Linked DNA regions of Homo sapiens. The protein of the gene in region 1 interacts with the protein of each later gene in a pairwise test. Each region holds a gene or a part of one and is shown on either strand. Other genes may lie near its edges. The genes, in order: TMEM106A and ENTPD3.

Region 1 (5,948 bases):
CTGGGGAAGATAACGGGATGGTGGTGGCACAGAACAGGAATAGTAAAATTGGAAGAGACTTTAGAGATACACAATGGGAGCAAGAGGGAGAGTGAGGTCCTGTGAGCAATCTCACGGAAAACAGAAGGGCAGGATATGTCATCAGTGGCTCAGAGGCCTGGGGAAGAAACCTTGCTGCCCGTTAGAACATTAAGGAAACAGTTTCTGCCAGGTGCAGTGGCTCATGCCTGTAATCCCAGCACTCTGGGAGGCCGAGGCGGGCAGATCGCTTGAGGCCAGGAGTTTGAGACCAGCCTGGCTAACATGATAAAACACTGTCTCTACTAAAAATACAAAAATTAATTTGGTGTGGTGGTGCATGTCTGTAACCCCAACTACTCAGGGAGTCTGAGGCACGAGAATCACTTGAACACAGGAGGCAGAGGTTGCACTGTGCCAAGATCATGCCATTGCACTCTAGCCTGGGTAACAGAGCGAAACTGTCTCAAAAAAAAAAAAAAAGAAAAGTTTGTGAAATAGGGAGTATCCACTAGCTCCCTTCCCACTCCCAGGAGACTTTTTTGAACACTCTTAAGTATAGTTTATTGAATACAATATAAATACTTCACATTTGGCAGTCTATACACAGCAGCTCCAGCCTGGCTTCCCTGGACTTTTGCGCTCTTGCCAACACCACCCTGACCTCAGCTTGGAGACAGCAGTCTCCTTCCTTCCCCTCGTTCCCCCAGCCAGCTAGTTACCAAGTTCTGTCACCACTTCTCCCTCTCCATGCATCCTACTTCAAAATTAGCTTTCCCTGCTCACCTGTGTTCATCGTTCTGTCTGAATGATAAAGAGACAGCCATCTTTTTTTTTTTTTTTTTTTGAGACAGAGTCTCGCCCTTGTTGCCCAGGCTGGAGTGCAGTGGTGCGATCTTGGCTCACTGCAACCTCTGCCTCCCAGGTTCAAGTGATTCTCCTGCCTCAGCCTCCTGAGTAGGTGGGATTACAGGTGTGCGCCATTACGCCCAGCTCTTTTTTTTTTTTTAAACGGGGTCTTGCTAATGTTGCTGCTCATGTTAAACTTGAATTCCTGGGCTCTAGAGATCCTCTCACCTCAGCTTCCTGAGTAGCTGGGACTACAGGTATATACCACTGCACCCAGCTGTAAGACCAAGCCACCTTTAATGAACAAATATCCTTCCTGTTCTGCTAAAGTACAGAAACTATTTCTACTAGGAGCCAGTGGGAACCTAGGGGTTATCTGGAGCTTAGCTCCAGCTAAGTGACAGGAAAGGGAGGGTCTAGACCAGTCCCTGCTGATGTGCTGCTCCACATTGTCAAAGCCCAAGGAGAGATGAGGCCTCTGGGACCAGAGAGGGCCCTGGTGCTAAGGTGGTGGTGGAACAGAACCCAGCAGCCTTCAGCTGGATACTGATAGCTTCATCTCCTGAAGGCTTTCAGATGACAGCAGCTGGACCCACCGTTTTACCTACCTGTGTCCACTCACATGGGCTCAGGATGTGGACTTAGAGGCTCTCCTTTAATAAATATCTTATACAATGATTCTGTCTTTGGCTCTGTTTTTCCTGTGCAGGCCCGCAGAGTGCCAGGTGCCTCTCTCCCCTCCTCTACTATTTTGGCTCCTGCTATGAAAAGAATAGTAAAACTACTTTATAGAGAGGAGACGCTTTAGCTGGAGAACAACTCTGTCTTCCTAGGAACCAGGGACAGTCAATAACCAGAAAGGACAGAGGGCTAAAGGGCCTTGGCTAATCTTACTATCAGATGGGTGGCAGACAAGTTACCAGAGAGAAGCAGACTATCACTTTTTCACATGGTCAAAGCAGATAGGCACAGAAAAGCATCTATGATCCCCTGAAAGTCCTTGGAGATGGCACTGGATATCCCCAAATTTTCTTATCAGAGGGTAGAAAACTTGAAAAGAGTCTTTTTTTGAGACAAAGTTTTGCTCTTTTGCCCAGGCTGGAGTGCAGTTGCACGATCTTGGCTCACTGCAACCTCTGCCTTCCGGTTTCAAGTGATTCTGCTGCCTCAGCCTCCCGAGTAGCTGGGATTACAGGCGCATGCCACCACACCCAGCTAATTTTTGTATTTTTAGTAGAGACAAGGTTTCACCATGTTGACCAGGCTGGTCACGAACTCCTGCCCTCAAGTGATCCACCCACTTCGGCCTCCCAAAGTACTGGGATTACAGGTGTAAGCCACTGCGCCCAGCCGGCAGGTCCATGTTTTAAAAGCCAGATAAAACTACAGCTCTCTCCACATTCAGACGGGACAGCCAGCCCTGATGGAGCTGGGGTGAAATGCCCCCTTCAGACTGACCAGGTGCTCAGTACAGAAAGGCCAGGTGCCACTCCAGGGAATCTAAGGTGCCTCAAGAAAATGCCAGGTCAGATTTTCCTCAAGAAAGACCAGCCAGGCACAGGCTCACATCTGTAATCCAAGTGCTTTGGGAGGCCAAGAAGGGAGGATCGCTTGAGCCCAGGAGTTCAAAACCAACCTGGACCAACAGTGAGACTCTGTCTCTACCAAAAAAAAAACAAAAAACTAACCAAGGGCAGAATCTGATGGCAGCCCCTGAAAGAATCTGGGGGAAACTGGAGGATATGAGTGTGTGTGTATGAAGTTAACTTCAAAGCAAGCTTCCTGTGCTGAGGGGGTGGGAGGTAAGGGTGTGATGAGGCAGGGCTTCTCCTTTGGCAAAGCCTCTGTAGTCCTTCCTTAGTCACCAGGGAGTTGTGGGAGATATAGACCAGGGTTGCAGGTGCCTGGAGTACAGGGACAGCAGACAGGTCATGGTGGGTGAGGGGTCAGCTGGTGGGGCACAGATGCGTTTCCTCGGCAGTCCACATATTCATAGCTCTGAAAGACCAGCTGCTCTGAATGGCTCAGGTATGAACAGGTCAGGGTGCCCCTGGAGAGGAAGCAGGCCTTGTTGCCATGGCTGGGAGGAAAAGGAAAGCTCTGGCCCCATTATACTGTCTGGGGGTGGGGAGCGGGGAGCTCCCTCATTTGCCCTTCCCTCTGGCTCCCCACTCTGCCAAGGTACCTGGGACAGCTGCCCCACCTGTTTTCCAGCAGCTTCCAGACAGCCCTATGCCTGTTGCCCCTAATAACTTATAGGCAAGGTGAGACTCAGAAAAGGGGCTAGACTTGCTATTCCCAAGAGCCAACAAAGATTCATGGGGTCAGCTTGGAAGACTCTCTGCCCATGAGGTGTAGCTGAGTGAGAATGAAGTCAGAAGTGAGAGCAGGGATACCAGAGCTCCAAGCTCTACTTACTGGATGTGCAAAAGCACATGGTGGACTTTGATTTCCAGCCAGGTACAGATTTTGCTGAGAGAGAAGAAAAGAGAACGTGGGACCACGTGTCACATGGAGCAGCCTGTCAGCTCAGAAGATGCCTGCAGGTCCCAGTTTCCTTACCCCACAGAACTCTTTCCTTCCATCAGGTGCCCCCAAAATGTCACTCCCACCCCTTCCCACCCTTCAGGTGAGTGTAGCAGCATGGCTGCACTATCACTCTGACCTCCACTCACTTGGCCCAGGCACATGCTGGACCCCCATTCAGGAGACAGACAAAACATTCTTCTTCCTCAGCAATGCAGGCTGAAGAGCCCAAGGTCACATATTGTAAAGATTAACCAAATTCCAGCCTGTTTTTCATTCTAATCAAGGTCCAAACAAGCAGAGGCTGGGGACCCTGAACCCTTGCTTATTACATTCTCGGCCATGGGAGGGCAGGCCAGATGCTGGCTGAAGAATTTGCTAAGCAATCAGGAAAGCTGGTGGGTATTAATTGGGTCCCTAAGCCAGGCAAGTGGCTAGGGGAGAAGAGATCAAGGGGTACTCACTATGTGTTTTCATCCCGTATCTTGGTAGCTACTGCGTAAAACATCTGTCAACCAAATGGGCACAGGGTTAGCCCCAACTCCAGCTGCCCCTTTCCCACTACCACACATCCACACACCAGTGGGCAGGGCTGGCCAGGGAGAGGGGAGTCACCTGTTCACTGGCCAAAGGGCCAATGTGTAGGAGAAGGTTGTTGGAAACCTGCCCCACCACGAGGGACAGGTGCAGAACCTCGAGGGTCAGCTGTGTCACCATAATGGGGTAGTAGTTGCCATTGGAGATGTTTAAGATATTCTGGGGATGAAGACAAGGGAAGGGAGGAGTGAAGATGGCCCATCCTTAGGAAAAGCCAAACAGTTGCAAAAGCCTGGCTGTCTGGCCTGAGCCCCATCTACCATGACAAGCTTCAGGTGCAGAGGATGAAAACTGGGAGCCCCTTGGAGGGGCATTGAATGGTGAGGGGTCAACTTTACGAAGTTAAGCTGCCTCAGGATCCAGGTCCATCCTGTACAGCTTCTTTCCATTCAGTCCTGTCCATCCAGAGAGTCTCAGGCACTGTCACCCCACTCCACCCCTGTGGTTTACTTATCTGGCCCGGATTCTGACCCCTTACTGTGTAGAGTCCCAATCCTTACCATCTGTCATGGAGCTCATGGTTGCTCCTACTTCTCTTCAGGCTCCCAACACCCTCTGGGTGCCATAAGATCTCTGGCTTCCCATGCCCAGGGTCATAACACTGGACAAAGGTTACAGCGAAGTATTGCTAGGAAGGGGGGTTTGGAGCCAAGGGCACCCACCCACCGTTATGTTGAGGTAGATATCAGCCTCATCAAAGGCCACTGTGGAGGAGTTGAGGCCTGCAGGCTGCACAATGACGGACCGGGGAAACAGGAAAAAGACGATGAAGGAGGAGGTCACCAGGCAGATGAGCACGGCCAGGAACACAAAGAGCTTCCTGTGGGAAAGCAGGACCCAGGATGGAGGAATGGAAAAGTCTGAACACCAAGGAAACTCGGAGAGGGGGTTCAGACACTCCTCTCCATATACAAAGCTTTCCCCTGCACACTACCCCAACAACATTTAGCTCCCCAGATGTGGCCCGGAATGAGTAGGAGCACAGGATTGGCAGGCAGGCAGCCTGGTTTCCACTCCCAGATCTCTGTTCCCATTGACCCAATAACATGGAGCAGCCCACTTAGCCTCCTTAAGTCTCAGTTTCCTTGTTGGTAAAAGGCAGATAATTGTACTGACCTCACAGAATTTGTTATCGGCTAATATATGAAAAAATACTAATCACAGGTCCCTGCACATGGCAAAAGCACAATGAATGCTAGTTATTATCACTAGAAGAAATAAGTCCATATTTGGAAGTTCTGAATTTTAACATTCAGAACAGGACACCATCCATCCAATTCAAAATTCAGATATGCATTAAAGAGATAGTACTTTGTTAGTATCTTATGATGTGCACTGCTAATTTCTTTTTTTTTTCTTTTTTTTGAGATGGAGTCTTGCTGTGTCGCCCAAGCTGGAGTGCAGTGGCACGATCTCGGCTCACTGCAACCTCCACCTCCCGGGTTCACGCCATTCTCCTGCCTCAGCCTCCTGAGTAGCTGGGATTACAGGTGCCTGCCACTATGCCCGGCTAATTTTTGTATTTTTAGTAGAGGCGGTTTTGCCATGTTGGTCAGGCTGGTCTCAAACTCCTGACCTCGTGATCTGCCCGCCTTGGCCTCCCAAAGTGCTGGGATTACAGGGTTTTTTTTTGTTTTTTTTTTTTTTTCAGATGAGGCCTCGCTCTGTTGCTCAGGCTGGAGTGCAGTGGCATGATCTTGGCTCACTGAAGCCTCCACCTCCTGGGTTCAAACAATTCTCCTGCCTCAGCCTCCCAAGTAGCTAGGATTACTGGTGTCTGCCACCACGCCCAGATAATTTTTCTATTTTTAGTAGAGACAGGGTTTCGCCATGTTGGCCAGGCTGGTCTTGAACTCCTAACCTCAGGTGATCCGCCTGTCTTGGCCTCCCCAAAGTGCTGGGATTACAGGCATAAACCACCACGCCCAGCCTGATTTCTAATTCTGGTATAGTGGGGT
Region 2 (7,281 bases), on another chromosome or scaffold:
ACTGCATTTTTTTATTTTAATTAATTTACATTTAGATAGCCAATTGATTAGATATATATTGGAATTCGATGAATCTAGTGATCTTTCTATTAGTGTTCATCATATTTCAACCATTTGGTTGTCATTTATGTTGATGTCCCAATAGTTTTACCAAGACTATTATTATTATTTTTTTAGAGACAAGGTCTCACTCTGTCACCAGGCTGGAGTATAGCGGCACAGCTCACTGCAGCCTTGAGCTCCTGGGATCAAAGGATCCTCCAACTTCAACCTCCTGAGTAGCTTGGGCTACAGGTGTGCACCACATGTACAGTTGATTTTTTTCATTTTTTGTAGAGACGGGGTCTCACTATGTGGCTCAGGCTGGCATCTAACGCCTGGCCTCAAGCATCTTCCCATCTCAGCCTCCCAAAGCTGGGATTACAGGCATAAGCCACTATACCCAGCCCAAGATTATTATTTAGTCAGTATTTTCATTGAATGTCTTTTTATCTTTTTAAAAAATTAGGTATAACTTCTATTCAGTGAAATGGATAGATCTTAAGTCGTGCCCCTAAGTTGGGTGTTCTTGCCTTCTAAAAGTATGTTTTTAGAATAGTAAGGGCAATTTATAAGTTTATAATGTTTTTTTAAAAGGAAATTATACCTAAGACACTGATTTGCTTTCATTTTCAAGTTTTCTCCAAAGGACTTTGAAAGGTTTGATGAGTTTTGACAAATGCACACATCCATATACTCCACACTCTGTATAGCGCATTGCCATTACCCCAAGAAAGTGCCCACATATTCCTTCTCAGTGAATCCCTGCCCCAACTTCTGCCCCCTGGCAATCACTATTCTGATTCCTGTTACCTTCCTACTTTTGAACTTCAAATAAATGAAATCATTTCAGTATAGTATAGTACTAATTTTTTTATTTTTATTTTATTTTATTGAGACAAGGTCTTATTCTGTCACCCAGGCTGGTGTGTAGTAGTTTGATCTCAACTCATTGCAACCTCCACCTCCTGGCTTCAAGCAATTCTCCCACCTCAGTCTCCCGAGTAGCTGGGACTACAGGCGCATATGATCACACCTGGCTAATTTTTGTATTTCTTGGTAGAGACATGGTTTCACCATATTGGCCAGGCTGGTCTTGAACTCCTGACCTCAAGTGATCCACCCACTTCGGCCTCCCAAAGTGCTGGGATTACAGGGGTCAGCCATCTGCCCAGCCTAATTTCTTTTTCTTTAACTGAGATTATTTTTAAATGAAATATTCTATGAGATTATTTTTAAGTGAAATATTCTATCACCTGGTTTAATTTTTTAAAAATAGATTTTTTGAATCTCCATTAAAACTAATGTTAGCTGGGCGTGGTGGCTCACACCTGTAATCCCAGCACTTTGGGAGACCGAGACAGGCAGATCACTTGAGCCCAGGAGTTCGAGACCAGCCTGGCCAACATGGTGAAACCCTGTCTCTATTAAAAATACAAAAATTGGCTGCCGTGGTAGCAGGCACCTGTAATCTCAGCTATTCAGGAGGCAGAGGCAGAAGAATCGCTTGAACCTGGGAGTTGGAAGCTGCAGTGAGCCAAGATCACGGCACAGCACTCTAACCTGGGCGATAGAGTGAGACTCCATCTCAAAAAAAAAAAAAAAGAAAAGAAAAAGAAAAAAGTAAAACAAATGTTATTGTAATTCATCTCAGGGATAACCAAAATATCAGAAAACTAGACCATGCATACCCTCCCTGCAACACTGTTTTAGTACACAATTTGTGAGGAAGGGCAAATAGGTATTGTTTGTGCTTCCCCAAAACTGGGGAGAAGGGGAGCTTATTTGCTACTCCATCTTAGAAGTGTGGGTCTCGCTAACACCAGAGAAGGTGGTTTATGCACCTGATTATGGGGCCAGTCCATCAATTCTACAAAGAATACCAGTGCCTGGTTTTTACCTCCCCCTCAAGTGTCTTCTGGGTCTTCTCATTTTAGGCCTCAAGGCCCTCTACCGAACTCCAACCATCATTGCCTTGGTGGTCTTGCTTGTGAGTATTGTGGTACTTGTGAGTATCACTGTCATCCAGATCCACAAGCAAGAGGTCCTCCCTCCAGGACTGAAGGTAAGTGTGAAGGGACTGGCAACAAAGGGAAGAAATGAGCATAAAGGGGAAGAAATCAATTATTCCAAAACCATGAGTTAGAAGAGCAGAAAATCCTTTCCCCCCATCTCTGGCTGAAGCCAGGAGAAGTTAGTGTAAGACGCAAGGGAGAAGGTCTGGACATGCTGGGTTTGTGATATTTGAGGCTACAAATTGAGGGTAGTGACTGACACCTTCTCCAAGGACTGTGTAGTCTTGCTTTGACTTCTGACTTCAAAGCTAAAATTTGTAACCAAGAGTTGCAGATAGCTATCAAAGATTTACCAGTTCAGCCAGGTGCGGTGGCTCACGCCTGTAAGGCACTTTGGGAGGCTGAGGCAGGTGGATTGCTTGAGTCCACGAGTTCGAGACTAGCTTGGGCAACATGGTGAAACCCATCTCTATCAAAAAAAAAAAAAAAAAATTTACCGGTTAGTGCACTTTCCATTTTGACCAGTTTATCTGTTCTCCCAACCACACAACCCTGATAATGAGTAAAGACCGAGGCTGAGCACAGTGGCTCATGTCTGTAATTCCAGCACTTCGAGAGGCCGAGGAAGAAGGATTGCTTGAGCCCAGGAGTTCAAGACCAACCTGGGCAATATAGAGAGACTCCATCTCTACCAAAAAGAAATTTTTCCAAAAAAAGGAAAAAAGAAGTCAAGACCAGGAGACCCAGGCACCTCTTCTAGCCTAGGCTGAGTGAACAAAAAATCAAGAACTTGAGAAGGTCTCCTTGAGCTCTATTTGTGCTGCTACTCTTGAGTCTAGAACATGTGCTGTGTTCCTTCCAACACTTCCCTCAACAACACCCCCCCGGCAAAAAAAAAAAAAAAATTACTCAGGACCTTGTGCTTAGTCCCAGAGGCCCCTCTTAGTTCTCAACAAGTCCATCCCCAAATGATCTTTAGGCTCAGAATCATAATATATCCCCAGGCTTGGCTCTGAGGGTGCCCTTGGAGACAGGAGGTGATTCCATGAGAGGCTGACAAGGGAAAGATGAAGCAAGTTGATGAGTCCTTCAATCATTTTGGGTAGGGGTCAGCAAACATTTCTCATAAAGGGTCAAATAGTATATATTTTAGGCTTTGAGGTCCATTTATAGTCTCTGTTTTATAACTCTTCTTTGTTTTTTGACTCATTAAGAATGTACAAACCCTTCTTAGCTGTGCCATAGGGACCAGGTAATTCAGCCATGTTCTTTGAATCTCATTTAACATTTACACTTGACCTCACAAGTCTTTTCCATATCTTCCTGCTGTTAGTGACTATTCAAAGGTAATATTTGAAATACATAGACATTTTTAAAAGAAAAGAAACTAATATTGTTTTGGACTCTAAGGATGGGTTTGAGCTAACATTCTAAGGCAGCTTTTCTAAAAGATTAGAGTAAAATCTCCATTAGATAATATAATAGCATTTGGTTCCTTGATAGGATATTTTATTTAAGAATCTCAGCCCTCATGAATAATGTGAATTAAAAATTAAAAAAAAACCTTATGCAATCACCCAATAATGAGAAGAAAGCAAATTACCCAGTTGTCCAAAGATATTAGCTGAGGCCTAAAAGAAGGTGTTTTCCCAAGCTCCAGGCACTGCCTTCTACAAACTACTGTATATAAAATTGGGACTTTGGGAGGCCGAGGCGGGCGGATCACGAGGTCAGGAGATTGAGACCGTCCTGGCTAACGTGGTGAAACCCCATCTCTACTAAAAATACAAAAAATTAGCTGGGCGTGGTGGTGGGCGCCTGTAGTCCCAGCTAGCTACTCAGGAGGCTGAGGCAGGAGAATGGCGTGAACCCGGGAGGTGGAGGTTGCAGTGAGCTGAGATAGTGCCAACTGCATTCCAGCCTGGGCAACAGAGCGAGACTCTGTCTCAAAAAAAAAAAAAAAAAAAAAAAAAAGGAACTGCAACTAAGAGTAATATATTTTTTATTTTTTATTTTATTGTTATTATTTTGTGAGACGGAGTCGTGCTCCGTCACCTAGGCTGGAATGCAGTGGCATGATCTTGGCTCGCCCCAACCTCTGCCTCCACAGTTCAAGTGATTCTACTGCCTCAGCCTCCCAAGTAGCTAGGATCACAGGTGCCCACCACCATGCCCAGCTAATTTTTTCTTGCTGTATTTTTAGTACAGATAGGGTTTCACCGTGTTGACCAGGCTAGTCTTGAACTCCTGACCTCAGGTGATCCACCCACCTCAGCCTCCCAGAGTGGTGGGATTATAAGCATGAGCCACCGTGCCCAGCCGCAACTAAGAGTAATATCTCTTTACACTTTGTATAGTGCTATTCAGTTAAGTCAGCGCTTTTCCCTCATTACATCACTTAGTTCTTATGCCAACCATAGAAGGTGGACAAAGCGAGCACCATGACTGCCATTTTGAAAGTGAGAAAATACAGGTTTGGTCAGTGAATGACAGGTCCAGAACTGAAACCTGGTCCCTTCTGTTCCCAAGGCCAGGGCTCTCTTCACTGCCTCCCACTTCTCCCTGACCCTGAGTTCTGAATGGAGATCCCAAATGGAGGGAAGGGATTGGCCTCAGATAAGAGAACACTTCCTGCTTTGCACAGGATGGAAAGGTAGGGAGGATGCATGCAGATGTGGGAAGGTTTGTTGAATTGAAGGAGAGGAGTTAAGCCTAGTACCACCCTTAGACCCTGATAGCTGGGCTGCCTGCCCTGGGCCCCACATTTCAGAAGGACCAGCTCTAGTTGCACTTCAGGCTTATCTCTCTCTATGACCCAAACGAATGTGTTTACCCAGAGCCCATGTTTCCCCTTCTAGAACACACTGTGGTGCCCAAGACTTCAGAATCTAGGGTCTTCGTGGACCTCCAGAAGGTGGACATCACCAATGGTCTGAGGGGTGGCCAAGAGGCAGCTGCTTACAGGGAGTGTAAACAGAGCATAGCTGTGTGGTCTGAACTGTCCACACACAGGTGCATGGGCTCTTTATTCTGTGAGAACAGGTTTGGGAAAGGGACAGGGCAGAAGCCTCTATTCATAAAATTTTGTCTCTAATCCTACAAATGTTAGAAATGGGCTGGTTAAGGCAGTTGCCAGCTGATGGCTTCTACTTGTTCTGGACAGTAACAGGCAAGTCCTCTGTTCAAAATGGAGAGACATGGAGGAATCAGATGGAAGACTAGTAAAATGAGTAGATAAAAATAGATCCCTGGGCAGTCTAGAGGGCACTGTTGAAGGAGAAAACCACACATGTTGAATGCTACTGTCTTAGGTTGGGCTCTCCAAGTCAAAGACATACGTGCAAGTAGATCATCTGGGGATGATCCCAGGAAACACTGGTGAGGGACTAGGGAACTGAGATGGGTCAGGCAGCCAAGAGAGGGCCTGCTATGCAGCAGGTCGGCACTGTGGGCAACTGGGACTCAGTCCTGCTTGAGACCCTGTGAGCTGGTACAGAGAACTCAAAGTTGTCCCATATCAAGGGGCATACAGGCATGTGCCTCCCAGATATCCCAGTCAAGGGCATATTTATTCACCAGCTTCCATCAGTCATTAGCTGAGAGGCTGCTCCCTGGATGTTAACTCTCTAGTCCTTCTGGCATATTTTGTGATCAGGTAGACTCGGGCCACTAGTTAAGCCTTCAGGCAGGTGGAAGATGGATAGTTCTACATCACAGTAGTAAGGCCTGAGGGGATGTGGGCAGAGAATTGTCAGTGACTACTCCATGTAAATAATATTGTTATTATCCCTGTATTGCAGATGAGAAAACAGGAAAAGAAAGGGCAAATAGCTTCCCATAGTTACACAGATTGAAAATAGCAGAACTGGTGTAAAGGAAAGAAAAGAGAACAGACAACAGTGGCCTTAAACAAGGGTTTGGAGGAACCAGGAGACACACCCTCCACCAATCAGCAGGCAGTTCAAAGAGGGGATTTTAAATCTCTTCTGAATCTTGGTAACAGACCCTAGCCACCATTGCAAGGGACAGGAAATTGTAAAACACAGGAAGATGAGCTCGGAAGGTCCATTCTGCTTAATTGGGTGGATTAAATGTGAGAAAAGACAGATGTTCTGGGCCAGTTGAACCAGAAACGGAATGACAGCTTTGGAAGAGAGTGTTCCACATGCAGTTTTTCTCAGGATATGGAGAGATCTCTCTTTTTTTGTTTTGAAGAGGATTGCAGGTGATGAAGTTGAGCAAATATGAGGGATTTTAAATTATTTGTTATGTTTATTTTTTTATACCATGAGCCCTGTTTTGCTTTCGTGTGCAGCTGACAGTTGGTTCTAAAGGGCCAGCTCTACAACAGCCTGTCTGGAGGGCTCTGAAATGTTACAGAGGACTCTCATGCAAGGTCGTATCTGGCTATTAAATCTAACCTTGGCTTGCCTAACCCTGGTTTATGTGAGGTTATGGTCAGAACTATTAAAATGCAGTCAAGGGGCGAAAATGTCTGAGTCTCTTGTGTTACTGGTCTGACTTGCTCCACAAGCTTGAAGAGTAAACATGATGCCATCACTTGTAATTTTCACTCGGCCCCCAGTCCCCCGCTTTATCATCATGAAGTCCAATACCTTCCTCTTGAGGCTTCACCCTCCCTACCCCTAATCATAACCATCCAAGAACTTTAGAGCTTCTCAGTCCAATGATCAATACTATTGTACTGCCTCTTGCAGCCATGTGATGTCACTGTTGAAGATGGGTTCTGCACAGTCTAAAGGTTTTAAGGATGGGCTTTTCCACTGTGACCTGCTCAGCCCACATTAGTTCCCCATACTGGGTCCAAGATCATAAGCCATTTTAGTCTACACTCCCATGCTCAGCCATTACTCTCCAAAGCAAAACCACTGGCCCAGTCTGTGTTGAAATCATTCCCTTTTAACCCTCATTGAGCCTTGCTCATCAGCCTGGATTTCTGGTGCCTTGTAGCCCACCCTGGTCTACTTCTTGGAGAGTAAGAGTTGGATAATTAGTTTCTTTTTTTTTTTTTTTTTTTTCAGAAAGCCTCGGTCTCCTTATGCAAATGGGTCCTCTCCTCCAGCCAGATCTGCACACCCCTTAACTAAGACTTTACTTTCAAGGGACTTTTTGTTTAAATAAGAAAGTCTGCAATGCACCTGATTACTGAACAGTCATGCCATTACACTTGGTTTCCTTGGAGCTCAGTGAAAACATCATGGCTATG

The links.
Region 2: the proteins of TMEM106A (region 1) and ENTPD3 interact in binary tests that used the Homo sapiens proteins (3 or more experiments, as listed by UniProt).

Annotation. Positions count from the first base shown.
Region 1 is NC_000017.11:43,214,650-43,220,597, reverse strand, and holds the end of TMEM106A (transmembrane protein 106A), read right to left. Parts: intron 4,811-5,948; coding exon 4,657-4,810; intron 4,150-4,656; coding exon 4,009-4,149; intron 3,902-4,008; coding exon 3,858-3,901; intron 3,340-3,857; coding exon 3,286-3,339; intron 2,918-3,285; coding exon 2,797-2,917; 3' UTR 557-2,796; downstream 1-556. UniProt on the Homo sapiens protein: Activates macrophages and polarizes them into M1-like macrophages through the activation of the MAPK and NF-kappaB signaling pathway.
Region 2 is NC_000003.12:40,390,047-40,397,327, forward strand, and holds part of ENTPD3 (ectonucleoside triphosphate diphosphohydrolase 3), read left to right. Parts: intron 1-904; exon of another isoform or gene 905-1,976; coding exon 1,977-2,104; exon of another isoform or gene 2,105-2,523; intron 2,524-7,281. UniProt on the Homo sapiens protein: Has a threefold preference for the hydrolysis of ATP over ADP.